Homo sapiens: one gene and its partners. The protein of the gene in region 3 purifies or fractionates together with the protein of the main gene of each other region. This does not show direct contact. Each region holds a gene or a part of one and is shown on either strand. Other genes may lie near its edges.

Evidence for each region. Proteins that work in one complex are often made in the same cells at the same time.
Region 1: the proteins of PNPT1 (region 3) and GFM1 fractionate together in Homo sapiens (co-fractionation; one large-scale study listed by BioGRID). This does not show direct contact.
Region 2: the proteins of PNPT1 (region 3) and PDE12 purify together in Homo sapiens (affinity purification with mass spectrometry; one large-scale study listed by BioGRID and IntAct). This does not show direct contact.
Region 4: the proteins of PNPT1 (region 3) and LRFN2 purify together in Homo sapiens (affinity purification with mass spectrometry; one large-scale study listed by BioGRID and IntAct). This does not show direct contact.

Annotation. Positions count from the first base shown.
Region 1 is NC_000003.12:158,643,236-158,647,326, reverse strand, and holds the start of GFM1 (elongation factor G, mitochondrial), read right to left. Parts: upstream 2,801-4,091; 5' UTR 2,693-2,800; coding exon 2,612-2,692; exon of another isoform or gene 2,446-2,611; intron 1,699-2,445; coding exon 1,546-1,698; intron 1,163-1,545; coding exon 1,030-1,162; intron 585-1,029; coding exon 380-584; intron 1-379. UniProt on the Homo sapiens protein: Mitochondrial GTPase that catalyzes the GTP-dependent ribosomal translocation step during translation elongation.
Region 2 is NC_000003.12:57,555,025-57,559,073, reverse strand, and holds the start of PDE12 (2',5'-phosphodiesterase 12 isoform 1 precursor), read right to left. Parts: upstream 2,801-4,049; 5' UTR 2,695-2,800; coding exon 1,387-2,694; intron 1-1,386. UniProt on the Homo sapiens protein: Enzyme that cleaves 2',5'-phosphodiester bond linking adenosines of the 5'-triphosphorylated oligoadenylates, triphosphorylated oligoadenylates referred as 2-5A modulates the 2-5A system. Degrades triphosphorylated 2-5A to produce AMP and ATP.
Region 3 is NC_000002.12:55,645,345-55,648,844, forward strand, and holds part of PNPT1 (polyribonucleotide nucleotidyltransferase 1, mitochondrial precursor), read right to left. Parts: intron 2,110-3,500; coding exon 2,003-2,109; exon of another isoform or gene 1,929-2,002; intron 1,143-1,928; coding exon 1,071-1,142; intron 979-1,070; coding exon 915-978; intron 89-914; coding exon 5-88; intron 1-4. UniProt on the Homo sapiens protein: RNA-binding protein implicated in numerous RNA metabolic processes. Catalyzes the phosphorolysis of single-stranded polyribonucleotides processively in the 3'-to-5' direction. Mitochondrial intermembrane factor with RNA-processing exoribonulease activity.
Region 4 is NC_000006.12:40,433,865-40,437,364, forward strand, and holds part of LRFN2 (leucine-rich repeat and fibronectin type-III domain-containing protein 2 precursor), read right to left. Parts: intron 1-3,500. UniProt on the Homo sapiens protein: Promotes neurite outgrowth in hippocampal neurons. Enhances the cell surface expression of 2 NMDA receptor subunits GRIN1 and GRIN2A. May play a role in redistributing DLG4 to the cell periphery.

The DNA of each region.
Region 1 (4,091 bases), on a different chromosome or scaffold from region 3:
AATTAAAATGCTTCAAGGAAAAATTAAAACCAAAGATGATCTTTTGTCTAAATAAAACACAAGGTATTTTTAGAATCTAGATTATAACTTCTCTCATAATAGCAAAACAGTATAAACGGTCAGACTGTTTTCTGAATTCATCTTCAACCTCCCTAGAATTTAAGTAATATTGTCCCCATTTTAGAGATAAGGTAGTTGATGAGATCATACCACAAGCCAATTTACTAAAATCAGTGTTCCACTTACTAACTCACATAAATATATTTAAAAAACTAAATTTAAGAATAAAGTTTAATGACAGTGAATTAATCACCCTTTTGGATATAAGGTTTGCTGTCTAGATCATCACATCCTCTTTGTTTATTCTAAGGCTCATTACCTCATTTGCTGCAGGGCCCTGGCTGGGTTGGAGCCCATTCGGTCCAATTTGTTAATAAAAGTTAGAAACGGAACGTTGTAGCGCTTCATCTGACGATTGACAGTCATGGTCTGGCACTGTACCCCTCCAACAGCACAGAGAACAAGGACTGCACCATCCAACACTCTCAGGGCCCTTTCCACTTCTATTGTGAAGTCCACATGCCCTGAATAAGATGAAGTATGAGAGGGTCTTAAAGAGCAATCTGAATTTTTAATATATGCACTATTAGAAGTTTTTGTATCTCTGCTCATCACATAAGTCTTCTAATAAGAATGTAGATTCCTGAGCTCACCAATACTATTCACCAACCCTTAGGTGCAGGGCCTGGCAAGATCACTTCAAGAAAATACTAGGGCACAGGCACCTTTAGAATCAGCTAGAATATGTAAAAGGCAAGAATCTGCCTACTCACAATTTACTTGCACAAATTTTCAAGAAAACTACATAAGGATGAAGTGCTCTAGGTCCTAAGTTAGTCTTCTTTAATAGGAATTCAGTGTTACACTTTTGAGTATTTGACAATCAAAAACTAATTGGGTCACAGTAAGAGAAAGAACCAAATGTGCTTTTGCCAAAGAAGCTGCAATAAAACCAAGAATCCAACTCACCAGGAGTATCTATAATGTTAATATTGACATCTTTCCACATGGTGTAAGTGGCTGCTGACTGAATAGTGATTCCTCTTTGTCTCTCTAGTTCCATGGAATCCATGACAGCACCAACTCCATCTTTACCTTTCACCTAAACACAAGCACAGCAATTCAGACTTTCTCTGTCCCTGCATTCCAAGAAGGAAAGAAATCTTAACTGAAATGGAAACAGTTGCCAGGTGCAGTGGCTCATGCCTATAATCCCAGCACTGTGGGAGACTGAGGCAGGATGATAATTTGAGCCCAAGAGTTTGAGACCAGCCTGAGCAACAAAGTGAGACCTCTTCTATAAAAAATAAAAATAAAACCAGAACACAGATACTTAACTTAAGCAACTTTCAGATAAGCCTAACTGTCAAAAGTCCGCTGTTACCATTGTTTTAATCTTTCAGGTTTATAAGCTTTATTAAATAATAGCAACAAAACAATTAAAATCTGGTTCTAATTAATCCGGAATCAACCGTGAATATATACCTCATGCATCTTTGCAATTCTGCCAGTGTAGTAAAGGACTCGTTCTGTTAATGTAGTTTTCCCAGAATCAATGTGAGCTGAGATTCCAATATTTCGTATTTTTTCATTAGGAATCACCCCTGATGAAGACCATCGGCAGGCCTTCCAATTAACCTGAAAAAAATACGAGAGCTCAATTCTATGCACCTTTTATAAGAGAGAACAACAGACAATTAAAAGGAGTATGGTGGACATTATTCCTCCAAGAAATCTCACTGGATATGAGATAGCTTGAGAAAGGCACCAGGGGAAACCTTTAAGCCTGGAACTCTTGTAATCAGAGGACAGACTTCAAAACAAGACAGTAAAGACGTATTCTTTTAAAATTAATTAATGAATAAGTTAAATTTAATTAAAATGGGAGACACTTTTTACTGCAGATTTGAAAATACACACTGGGGCAGATAAAATCACAAAGACAGCTCCAAAAAATACTTTAATAGAAAATACAAATTTTAGCTTAAATTTAACTTAATTTTTTTCCCTTTCTCCTTTATTGTAGTTCACAGATGACAAATATGTTTGAGAACTTATATGCTCTATGCAGTGATGCTAGTAGCTCCAAGACAGCCCCCAAAGATTTCCAATTCCCTCCAAACAAAAACAATTCATGAAGCTTGTTTTAACTTTACTCTGGTGGCAGGGGATGGGGATCCCTATTAGATGGAATGAAGATACAATATAAACCTTTCCCTATAGGACTGCACATCCAAAATGCACAATTATTCACGGGAAAAGAGAGGCAAAAAAAAAAAAAAAAAACCTTAGAAAAGGTGGATAAAATATCAAAGTATCTGAGTGACAGACACTTTTAGTTGATTAAACCCTAGGGATACCAGAGAGCGAAACAAACGAGCTAACGAGCTAATGTGCAGGCACCGAGGTGCTTTTCAGCACTGACGAGCGACTGCCAGTATTCGGAGCTGTCAGTCATGAGGACCCAGGGGGTGTCACGGCCTTCCATTGCCCAGAAGGGATCACAAGGTTCCGGGAATGGTCCCGATTTAGCCTCTCTATGCTCCGGTACCTGCTTCCTCTGCCAGCCTAGGGAGGCGGGGGCCCTTCCGCGCCCCAGAGCCGCGACGGCTGCAGCTCCCAGGAGTCTCATGGCAAGCGCAGAGCACGCGTCAAAGTCCCGTGGCGCCGGGTGGGTTCAGCTGCCGGTAACGCACCGGGAAGCGGTCAAAGTCACGCCGGCAGCCAATGTTGTAAGAGCACTTCCGGGGCAAAGGACGCGAGGAAAAAGAGAGTGAGGAAAAGAAAGAAGAGCAACTGGATTGGAGGCGGAGCAGTGCCTACGCTGCTCGCGCGCCGTCTGCCGACTTGGAAGAGAAAGTGCAATCGCTTTGCGGAGCTAAAGAAGTGTTTGCTCCCAGTAAGACGGCATAGGTATATGGGTGAGGGAAGGGAGTCCTTTTGTCTTCGTCTTCTTTTTTAAATATTACCTCTGTATGAAGATACAGAATTTAAACATGGTTGTTAGGCCTATAAAGCAATGTGGAGAAATGTATATAACAATTTAAGTAGAAAAGAGCAAAATTGTCTATTACAAATATTAATAGGTATATATATGACATGGCCTGAAAAAGAACGTGGACAAATTATAGTGAATGAACTATCAATTACAATTACAAATACTTTTCCTCATGTCAAAATGTTATTTGTTATTGTTCGATGTCAGACATTTCATGTCCTGTCCATGTGGAAGACTGCATCCTTGACCATTCTGCTTGGATGTGTTAAGAGGCATGTTGAACCTAACAGGTCCAAAACTGAGCTTCGGATCTTCTTCCCCAAACCTTCCACAGTCTTATCCATCTCATAAATGTAAACTTTAGTGATTCTAGCCAAAAATATTAGTCGCTTTGACACCATGCTGTGACATCTCCGGTCTAATCAGTCAGCATATCCTGTAAGCTCTACTTTCAAAAAGACATCCAGGGCCGGACGCGGTGGCTCACACCTGTAGTCCCAGCACTTTGGAAGGCCGAGGCGGGCAGATCACGAGGTCATGAGATGGAGACCATCCTGGCTAACACAGTGAAACCCCGTCTCTACTAAAAATACAAAAAAAAATTAGCCGGGCGCGGTGGCGGGCGCCTGTAGTCCCAGCTACTCGGGAGGCTGAGGCAGGAGAATGGTGTGAACCCAGGAGGCGGAGCTTGCAGTGAGCCGAGATCACGCCACTGCACTCCACCCTGGGTGACAGAGCGAGTCTCAAAAAAAAAAAAAAAAAAAGAAAATCCAGAACTTACTTCTCCCCACCTCTCAGTACTGCCGTTTCTGGAGGGAACTATTGTAATAGCCTTGTAACCGATCTCACTGCTTCTATCCTTGCTGTTGTCAGTGGGCCGGTTCAGGTGCTTGACTTCACCACACAAAAGAATTTGAAAGCAAGTACAAAGTAAGAGTAGGCAAAAAAGTTTATTGTAAACCAAAAGTACACTCTGAGAGGCAGAGTGGGCTGCTCAGAAGAGAGACAGACAGCCTTTAGTATCTCTAGGGAA
Region 2 (4,049 bases), on a different chromosome or scaffold from region 3:
AATTTTTTTGTATTTGTAGTAGAGACGGGGTTTCATCGTGTTAGCCAGGATGGTCTCGATTTCCTGACTTGTGATCCACCCGCCTCGGCCTCCCAAAGTGCTGGGATTACAGGCATAAGCCACCAGGCCCGGCCTGTTTTTTATCTAAGACTAATGGCGAACTAACGTTTTCTTCCATCTCCTTCCCTTGATGAACTAGGACTGCAGTCATGAAATCCAACTTAAAGTTTCAGGATCTACATGACTAGGTTCAGTGTAACATGTTTTAATAATAGTCCAATATAGGCCGGGCGTGGTGGCTCACGCCTGTAATCCCAGCACTTTGGGAGGCTGAGGCGGGCGGATCACGAGGTCAGGAGATCGAGACCATCCTGGCTAACATGGTGAAACCCCAAACCCCGTCTCTACTAAAAAAATTAGCCGGGCGTGGTGGCACGCGCCTCTAGTCCCAGCTACTAGGGAGGCTGAGGCAGGAGAATCGCTTGAACCCGGGAGGCGGAAGTTGCGGTGAGCCGATATCGCGCCACCGTACTCCAGCCTAGGTGACAGAGACTCCGTCTCAAAATAATAATAATAATAATAATAGTCCAATATATAAAGCTAGTAATATAAACAATACATTTTACATGACAACACTTTGACTGGAGAAAGTGTTTTCAAGCGTAAGCACAGGCTTTGGAGTCAGGCAGACCTGGGTTTGAATACTCATTTCACCATTTATAGCAATGTGACCTGCAAAAAGATGCTTTTCTAGCCAGTTTCGTACTGGCAGTCACTGACAATACCATCCACCTCATGGGCTGTTGTGTGGAGTCAATTAAATGATCTTATAAGGTGCATGAAACACCTTAGGTACTTAAAAAATGGTAGCTGCTCTTCTTATTATGAACAAAATCAATTACTTAAAAACTTTAACACAAGAATGACATCTATAAAATGGGAATAGGGGACTTACTGTGAAGATTCAATGAGCCTATGATTTAAAAAAAACTAGTTTATATTTATGGAGCACTTCAAAACACACCACGCTCTTAAATTTTAAGTACTTTAAAATGTGCCAGAACAGTGCTTGGCAAGTAGTAAAAAACATTAGCTACTATTGTTCTTGCATTTAGCGTGTGTCCCTCTCGCTAGATTGTAAGCACTGTAAAAGTCCCTGCTAGTCTTGTTCAAGGCAACCTGCAGTATGGCAGGCACACCAGAGGTGTTCAAAAAATATCTGCTGAATGAATGAAGAGTAAACTTTGTGCTGAAGATACAAGGGCAAACACACCTTTCAACAATATCTGGATACTTTCATCGCACTTTTAACCCCCACCTCATTCCTCGCCTTCCTGGCCCCTAAAAGTGGGACAGTATGTGAAGAGACGGGCGGAACTACTTTACCTGAAGAACAGAAGATCTCTGGAGCACCTTCTCCTGCGCTGATGGGTACAAAACTAGTTTCTCCAGCAGTTCTTTGTGAAGTGGGTCGGACTCGAGGGCTTCGTAGAATGAAATGTCATGCTGGCTAAGAAGGCTGAACTTAGACTTTCGGTAGAAAGTGGCCAGGCCTTCGTGCTGCTTGATTCGAAACACCCCCTCGAGCCCGAAGGCCTCTAGGGCGGGTACCAAGCTGTCAGAAAACACTGCGCGGTCAACCTCCTGCAAACAGATGACATCGGCGTTGTAGCCGGTGAGTTCCTTCTGGATAAGGTTCTGGCGGTAGTCGAGCTCCAGGGCGTAGGGGGCACAGTATGGGTACAGAACCGTTCGCGAGAACTCAGTCTGCGCGTACGTGTCTGCCAGGATGTTGTAAGAGACAGTGCGGATGAGAGCGTCCTCAGTCACCTTCTTCGTGTAGAGATGCCGGTGGTCAAAAGTGCAGGTGCCAGGCCCAGCCTCTACCACACACACACTTTCCAACTCCCGGCTGTGCCCAAAGCGCTGCCCATCGCCTGGGGTGCAGTGAAGCTTGAGCCTTAGCCCGATGTCGGCATTGGACGGGGTGTAGACACGCTCCTCCACATCAGTCTCAGTCCAAGAAGAAGAAGGTGAGGAGGGAGACAATGACGAGGGGACACCGACCTCGGGCTCCGCCGCTCCGGGCTTGGCTTCCTTATACCAGCGGAAAAGGGAGCTGGCGGGATCCCCAAATTCGAGGCTGAGTTTGGGGCACACAGGGAACCCGGCCATGATGTAGCGCGGCAACTGCAGTTCGGTGAAGGCGGGCGGGTTGCGCTCCACCTTGTACTTAACATCGCCGATCTGCAGCACCGCGCCGTCTTGCCAGGCATCCACGTTGAGCACGTCCTCAGCCACTGCCTCTTCCCGGTAGTACAGCTTCACCACGGGCTCGCAGAACACAGCCGGCTCAGGCCCCGGCCCTGAACAGGCCGCACCGCCGCTAGCATTCGGCCGGCTCTTCCTGCTCTTCTTGGCGGCGGCCGCCTTAGCGTGACCCTTTAGGGCATTGGTAGCGATGCGGCTGAGGACTCGACCCAGCGGCTCGCTCTGGTCGCGCTGCATGTTCTTGTGGCTACCATCAGCCAAAGCGAATGACAGGCTCAGCTTGGGTTCCGAAGGTACGCAGCGCACTACAGCGCGCTCCATCGCTCCCGCCGCTGTCTGGCTCCCCGCTTCAGCCCGGCTCAGCTTCTCCACCGCCGTCCGGATCACCCGAAGCGCGGCGCGGGCGCCTGGGAGCCTCCACATGAACCTGGTGGCCTAGCGGTCGACAAGACCCGCGGCCGATCAGCGGCCTACTGTCAGGTGGAGCTGAGGAGCCGAGGCCGCCGGCTTTGACTCATTCAGATCTCGCGACTTCCGGCTAGCGAAGAGAGGGAATGAAGTGCTTCCGACTCGCACTTTCGCCTAGCGCGTGGGCACGCATGTCTGTAATACTCTGAAGATTAATTTTTACCTACACGATAGGTCAGAATTATAGGGAAGTGAAGAAAATATAAAGGTGTCAGAGGAAAATACTAGATTCCACGGTTTTGTCGAAAGTGCATGCTGGTGACGGGAGGGCATGCCCTCCAAGCCGGAAGTGGATAGGGTGGTGTCACGTGTTCCGCTTCGTTGGAGGAGGTGGACACCTGTCTTGGAATCTTGGCTGACCAGCTCTCCTCCCTGCGCCCGGGACTGGACTGCGCTAGGACGTGGAGGCCTCCACCCGGATTGCGAGCTTTACTCGCAGTGTGGAAGGTGTTGCCCATTTCATCTCCACAGCTTTGCCGACCCTGATCGCTCGTTTCGGTGGCCTGGTGGGTTCACCCCAGGCTGAGCCAGCGCCTACGCACCTCTGAGCAGAGCCTTTGTGGTAGTTAACAACGAACGATATACAATAACTCCGTTTAGTGAGCGCAGACTATGCGAGAAACGCTACACACACTATCTTATTTAAGCCTCATAGTTCTTATGAGGTAGGTCTCTTTATCCATCGCTTTACAGATGCAGAGTCCCGAGATATTACCTGCTCAGGGTCACACAACTATTAATTGGCAGAAAGAAATAGTACTGACAAACTGCGGAAGGCTGTTTGTTATTTTTTATTAGAGACAGGTTGTCACTTTGACGCCCAAGCTGGAGTGCAGTGGCCTGATCATAGCTCACTGCCCCCTCGAACTCCAGGGCTCGTGCGATCCTCCCGCCTAACCCTCTCAAGTACAAACAGGCAAGAGCCACCCAGTGTTTATTTTTAGTTAGTAAATAGGAAGACTCTATTTAGTTACTACATTTAACAAATAAAATTACAGGATCTCAGTTAAATTCAATTTCAGATAAGGAATAATAATGGGGCATATATTAAGAAATAGTTGTTTATCTGTTTATTTTATTTTTTTATTTTTTAGGTAGGGCCTTGCTCTTTCACCCAAGCTGGAGTGCAGCTGTGCGATCTTGGCTTACTGCAACTTCGGCTTCCAGAGTTCAAGCGATTCTCGTGCCTCAGCCTCCCAAGTAGCTGGGACTACAGGCACACACCACCACGCCCAGCTAATTTTTGTATTTTAGTAGAGAAGGGCTTCACCATGTTTCCTGGGCTGGTCGCGAACTCCTGGCCTCAAGCA
Region 3 (3,500 bases):
TTACCTACAACAGGTCCATTTTCTTTTCTAGATGCTCGAGGTTTTGAAATAGTTTTGTTCATGATCTGTAATATCTCCTTTTTTGCCACTAGAAGAGAAAAACACAAAAATTATAACTACATAAAACAAATATGATCTGAAATACTGTACTCTTAGTTTTCACGGTATACAATCTAAACCCTGTAGCTTAATAATTGAAGCTTTCCACATCCCTATTACCTTGAAAATTCACTCATATTCTCTTCTCCAAAAATCCCATCTTAAATAGAGTTGTTTAATTTGTAAAAATTGAAATTTCACTGGTAACCCACTTTGGCGTGTATTCATGTGTCCCAAAAACTTAGTTGTGCTTCTTCTTTTTTTAAAATAGATATGGGATCTCACTACGTTGCCCAGGCTGGTCTTGAACTCCTGGGGCTCAAGCAATCTTCCTGCCTTGGCCTCCCAAAGTGCTAGGATGAGCCACCATGCCATGCCTGGCTACTTAGTACTTCTTTTTTTTTGAGACATTTTCCCTCTGTCACCCAGGCTGGCGCGCAATGGCATGATCTCGGCTCACTGTAACCTCTGCCTCCTGGGCTCAAGCGATTCTCTTGTCTCAGCCTCCTGAGTAGCTGGGATTACAGGTATGCACCACCATGCCCGGCTAATTTTTGTACTTTTAGTAGAGACAGGGTTTCACCATGTTGGCCAGGCTGGTCTCGAACTCCTGACCTGAAGTGATCTGCCTGCCTCGGCCTCTCAAAGTGCTGGGATTACAGACATGAGCCACCACACCTGGCCAGTACTTCTTGATCTAAGTTATATGAAATTCCACTTTTTAAAGCAATATTTTATAATAAGCCTAATGAGAACTATAGTTCCCATTAGCAAAGTGGAAAAGAATGAAGGGAGAATCAAGCACACTAGCTCACCTGAAGCTTGTTGAATAGCCTCCATCACAATTTTTATTGGTATTCCAGGTAATTTAATATCAGCCTAATATGGAAAAGTCAAACAATTATATAAATATTGACTCATGGCATTATTTAAATGTTACAAAAATGAAACAAAATGGGTTTTAAAAATACCTGTAATGCAGTTATTCCTTTATTAGTGCCAGCTATTTTGAAGTCCATGTCACCATTGTAATCTTCAATTCCCTTCAGGAATTTAAAAAGTTATGACATAGTTTTAAACAAAAACAAAAGTCAACATATTCACTGTAGAAACATTTCAAAAAACAGCTTTAGAAGTAAACCATATCCTAAGTCCAAACACAAAGCAATGTTTTCTACATTAACTACCACTTCCAATTTGTGACTTTTTAAGCTACAATTATTTTCACCAGAAACATCATTTTATTTTTAGATCATTCCTTTCCCTCATAAATGCCTGAGAATGAATTTATGCTCATCCTAAAGTGAGTCATTATGAATACTTACACTGTGTAAGTATTACTGCAATACTTAAGGGTAAGTATTACTATTTTTTTAAAGTAATCATTTTATTTTATTTTATTTTACTTATTTTGAGACACAGTCTTGCTCTGTTGCCCAGGATGGAGTGCAGTGGCACGATCTTGGCTCACTGCAACCTCTGCCTCCCGGGTTCAAGCAATTCTGCCTCAGCCTGCCAAGTAGATGGGATTACAGGTGTGTGCCACCATGCCCAGGCTAATTTTTGTATTTTTAGTAGAGATGGAGTTTTGCCACATTAGCCAGACTGGTCTGGAACTCCTGACTTCCCAAAGTGCTGGGATTACAGGCATGAGTCACTGTGCCTGGCCTATTACTATTAATATAATATCTATTTTAAATTCATATCCTATAAGATACAAGGTGAACATGCAGAGGAGGAAGGGAAGAACAAGTACCTGTTCTTCAAATACTAGCATTCTTCTAAGCATACGCTAGGTGCAAAGTACATATAGTCTTCACCATTATTTGTTTTTATCTTTTAATTTTTATTTATTTATTTTTAGTCTTCATTATTAAATATTTGAAACCGAGAATATACTTGCCAAAATATCTGTCAGCAAACGATAATCTTCTATTTCACCCTTCTCAGGATCGGTTTTGGTGACCAATCCTATTGCTACGCCTGCAACAGCAGATGAAATTGGAACCCCTATAATTGGGAAAAAGAACAACTGTGGGTAATGTGTACATGAGCCTAAAACAAATATTTATCTATCAATTTTTTTTTTTTTTTGAGAGGGAGTCTCGGTCTGTTGCCCAGACTGGAGTGCAGTGGCATGATCTTGGCTCACTGTAGCCTCTGCTTCCTGGGTTCAAGCAATCCTCCCACCTCAGCCTCCCCTATAGCTGGGATTATAGGCACCCGCCAACACGCCTAGCTAATTTGCTTGTATTTTTAGTGGAGATGGGGTTTCAACCATGTTGGCCCTGTTGGTCTTGAACTCCTGACCTCAGGTGATCTGCCAGCCTCAGCCTCCCAAAGCGCTGGGATTACAAGCGTGAGCCACCGCGCCCAGCAGACATTTACTTTTAATGTAAGTGGATATTGTTGCCTAAATTGACAATCACCGAAGCTGAGTTGGAAGTCTTAAGAGGTCATCTGACTACTTCGTTTGTTTTTGAACATATAATAAAGTTCCCTAAAACAATGTAAACAAGTACTATATCCAGCAAAAACTTCTCTAACAATAGCAAACTTTATAACTTTTAAATTATCCGTTGGTTTGCTTTTTTGCTTCAGGTGTCTTATTTTCTTTTTGTTGGAAAGTAAGCATCTATTTGGTAAATTCTTCCAGCCTGAACTCCTCAGTTTACCTCCCCATGGCAGCTAACATTAGTGTATCCTCCTAGAAAATTTCTGTGCACAAGTATAAATGTAAATATAATCTTTTGTTTTCTTTACTCGTGGCGGCAGACTGTATGCATTTACTGTTCTGCACCTTGCCTTTTTCACTTAATAACATGTCTTGGATATTGACACATACCACCACACAAAGCTCTACTTTATTCCTTTGAATAGTTTTAGTACTCCCTGTATGTTTTACAAGTCACACACAGAAGTGCGATTGCTGAGTCAAAAGGTATGTGCATTTACGTTTGTTAGACTGTCAAACTGCCTTCTAAAGACATAGCATTTTAAACTTTTACCAGTGGTGTAAGAAGGTATATGCTACTCTATATTCTTATTAATTCTTGTCAAATCTTTTGATTTTTCTCAATTTAAAGTGTAAAAAATGGTTATTTTAAATCTGACTTGTTTTTTATGACTGAGGTTGAAAACTATTTCATGTTCATAAACCTATTTATATGTCTTATTTTGAGAACTCCCTGTTCATGGCCTTCAACACTTTTCTACTTGGTTGGCAGTCTTTTTATTACTGATTTTCTTTCAATATGGACAGAGCTTTATTAAAATGTAAAGATAAAATATTATGTTTAATAACATATAAATAAAATATTTTATTTCCTAGTTCGTTGACTTTGCTTATGGTCATTAGTTTTCTGTGTAGGATTTTTAGTTTACGTAATCATGGTTTCTGG
Region 4 (3,500 bases), on a different chromosome or scaffold from region 3:
TGGACCCTCACATACATCAGCTCTTTTGGGCTTTAGGAATCCCCTTCAGAAGGAAGGGATTATCTATACACAGACGAGGATTGATCATGGCCTCAGAGCCTCCTTTGGATCTTTACTCACAAGTTACCTTCTCCCAGAGGCCTTCCCAGATGCTCTTCCATGATCATCCCTGCCCCGCCCCGCTGCATAGCCCTCTTCTCTGCTCTGTATTTTCTCCTTGCAACTAATCCCTATCTATGTTTTAACTATTTGTCTTCTTTATAATTTGTTCTTTTGCTCTAGCCGTAAAGCCCCAAGAAGAAGGGACCTCTTTTCATTCACCACTGCATGCCCAAAGCCTAAAGCGCTGCCTGGCACATAGTAGGTGCTTTTACAAGAATGGCTATCTAAGAAAGAAAGGAAGAGAAATCTGACTCAAGTCTTTGCGCCTCCAAATGTCAACAGTTTCCTCACTATCCCATGTTGTACTAAATGTGGCCTTATTGATACAGTGCTTCTTGGGGCTTTACTGATAGAGCAAAATGATAGCCAGTTGAGTTGGACTTTTGGAAAATCATGCAGCACACTGATTGTGTAGCATTATGCAGACCAGCATTTCTCAAATTGCCTTTTTTTTTCTTTTTTTTTTTTTTGAGACGGAGTCTCACTCTGTCTCCCAGGGGAGCGCAGTGGCGCAATCTTGGCTCACTGCAACCTCTGCCTCTGTGGTTCCAGTGATTCTCCTGCCTCAGCCTCCCAAATAGCTGGGACTACAGGCACACACCACCATGCCCAGCTAACTTTTTGTATTTTTAGTAGAGACAGGGTTTCACCATGTTGGCTGGGCTGTTCTCAAACTCCTGACCTCAGGTGATCCACCTGCCCCGGCCTCCCAAAGTGCTGGGATTACAAGCGTGAGCCACCGTGCCCAGCCCCTCAAATTGCCTGCTAAACATACTAATTAGAGTTCTGCAAAAATGGCTTCTAAGGCCAGTAAGGTGGGGAAGCATTGCCTACTCTTGCTTTCTCTCACAATAGCTCTGTACGCATGAGCAAGTTTAGAAGAATTGAGAAATTCTGCTGCAGTGAAACACTAAATTAATGTTTAAGTTTGCATTACTCCTATTTCTTTTTACTATAAAGACATCCCTTTCTTGAGCAATGGTTTTACATATATATATATATATATATATATATATATATATATATAGAGAGAGAGAGAGAGAGAGAGAGAGAGAGAGAGAGAGACAGAGAGATAATATATATTATATATTTTATATATATATTATGTATTTTATATATATATATACAGAGAGAGAGAGAGAGAGAGAGAGAGAGACAGATTCTTGCTCTGTCACCCAGGCTGGAGTGCAGTGGCACAATCATAATTCATGACAGCCTGAAACTCCTGGGCTCAAGTGATTCTCCCACCTTGGCCTCCTGAGTAACTACAGGCACTTGCCATCATGCCTGGCTAATTATTTTTATTTTTATTTTTGTAGAGTCAGATTTTGCTATGTTGCCCAGGCTGGTCTCGAACTTCTGGCTTCAAGTGATCCTCCTGCTTCAGCCTCCCCAAATGTTGGATTTACAGGCATGAGCCACCTCGCCTGGCCAATATCTTGTGGAAGTAGAGCTCTATAACTCCCAGTTTGAGGAGCACAGATGCAGAAAAAACTAGCTTATTTTATTTTTTGTTTCCTATTTTTTTTTGAGACGGAGTCTGGCTCTGTCACCCAGGCTGGAGTACAGTGGCATGATCTCAGCTCACTGCAACCTCTGCCTCCCAGGTTCACGCCATTCTCCTGCCTCAGCCTCCCTAGTAGCTGGGACTACAGGTGCCCGCCACCACACCCGGCTAATTTTTTGTGTTTTTAGTAGAGACAGGGTTTCACTGTGTTAGCCAAGATGGTCTCGATCTCCTGACCTTGTGATCCGCCCGTCTTGGCCTCCTGTAATAGCTTATTTTTTTTAAAAAAGATACGTAATATATTGAAAAATCTATTCCTATCATACACTTTATTATGTATATTTGAATTCCATTATTGCGCCTCTTTAAGGGTAAATCTCCTACCTGAGACCCTTCAAGGGCCAGAGGCTTGCCCTGTATTTTTTCTGGAGAGAGCATCACTGTGAAGTAGAAATATGATGTGAGCCAAAAATGTGACTTCAAATTTCCTAGTGGCCATATTTTTTAAAAAAGTAAAAAGAAACAGGTGAAATTAATTTTGATAATGTATTTTATATAACTAGCTATATCAAAATATTATTTCAATATATCCTCAATATAATTATTAATGAGATGGCTAACTTTTTTATTTTACAAACTCTTCAAAATCTGGTGCGTATTTTACCCTCAGAGCACATTTCAAATGCTCATTAGCCATATGTGGCTATTGGCTACCATACTGGGTAGTGCTGTGAACTGTAGCTCACAGACCAAATATATCCTGTCACCTGTTTTTGTAAATAAAATTTTATTAGAACACAGCCATGCTTATTTGTTTACATATCGCATGTGGCTTCCTTTGTGCCACCATGGCAGAGGTGAGCCATTGCTGCATATAACACATGGCACTGAAGCCTAAAATATTTACTATCTTGTCCTTTACAGAAAGAGTTTGCTGACCTCTGTTCTATAGGATATGTGTTTTTTTTTTTCATCTTCATCAAGGGCACCTTCATTAAAAGCCTTGGCCAAAGTGCCGAGTTCCACACAGCTCTGCCCTGGCCTCCCCATGAGCACCTGCCCACCCTGCCAGTCCCTGTTCTCACCAAGCTCCCACCTAAGGTAGACCAGCTTCACCTTACCCAGGCCCCACCAGGTCACAGGTGTTGATACATGGAAGCTTTCCACCTGCCACCTTTCCAACTTGCTCTGTGCTCAAAGGTGTTCTGGCCTTCTTGGTCTCTACTTGCTGGGGCCTCATAGAACAAAATGAGGATCTTCTCCACTTGCATTGAGTCTTGAGTTTTCTAGCTACACCTCCCTGTGACTCATTGTGGTCACAGAATGAAGAAGGCTGACGTTTTTCTGGCTACGGCATCTGCTCAAATATAGTTGAGTGGTATTCTCTATACCCACGAGAGCACATGAACAGCCACAGCCACATCCAAGGATGTCCCTTGCTAATTAATCAAGAGGTGGTTGAGTGTGTGTGTGTGTGTATGTGTATGGGGTAGTGTTCTATGGCCCCATGAGAAAGGCCATCTCTCTTATGAGCTCTTATCAGTAAATGCATCAGTGTTCTAAGGCTAAACAGCACTTCCCAACATTTTCAAGTCCTGGCACACAGGAAATGATATTTGTCAGGTGCCCCTGGGCCCAGGGCCAAGGCTATTCATGGCCTGTGCTGGATATCTTCCACTGTCCCTCCAGATCCTCTCTCCACCCTCTCCCCGCCAGCTCTGCATTCTGGGAGGCTGATCCATATGGACCGCATCTGTGCAATATAGATGGACTGCCTCCGCCATCCTTTGTGCCCTTCTACCCTTGGCTGTGTTGCCTGCCCTCTGGTAGA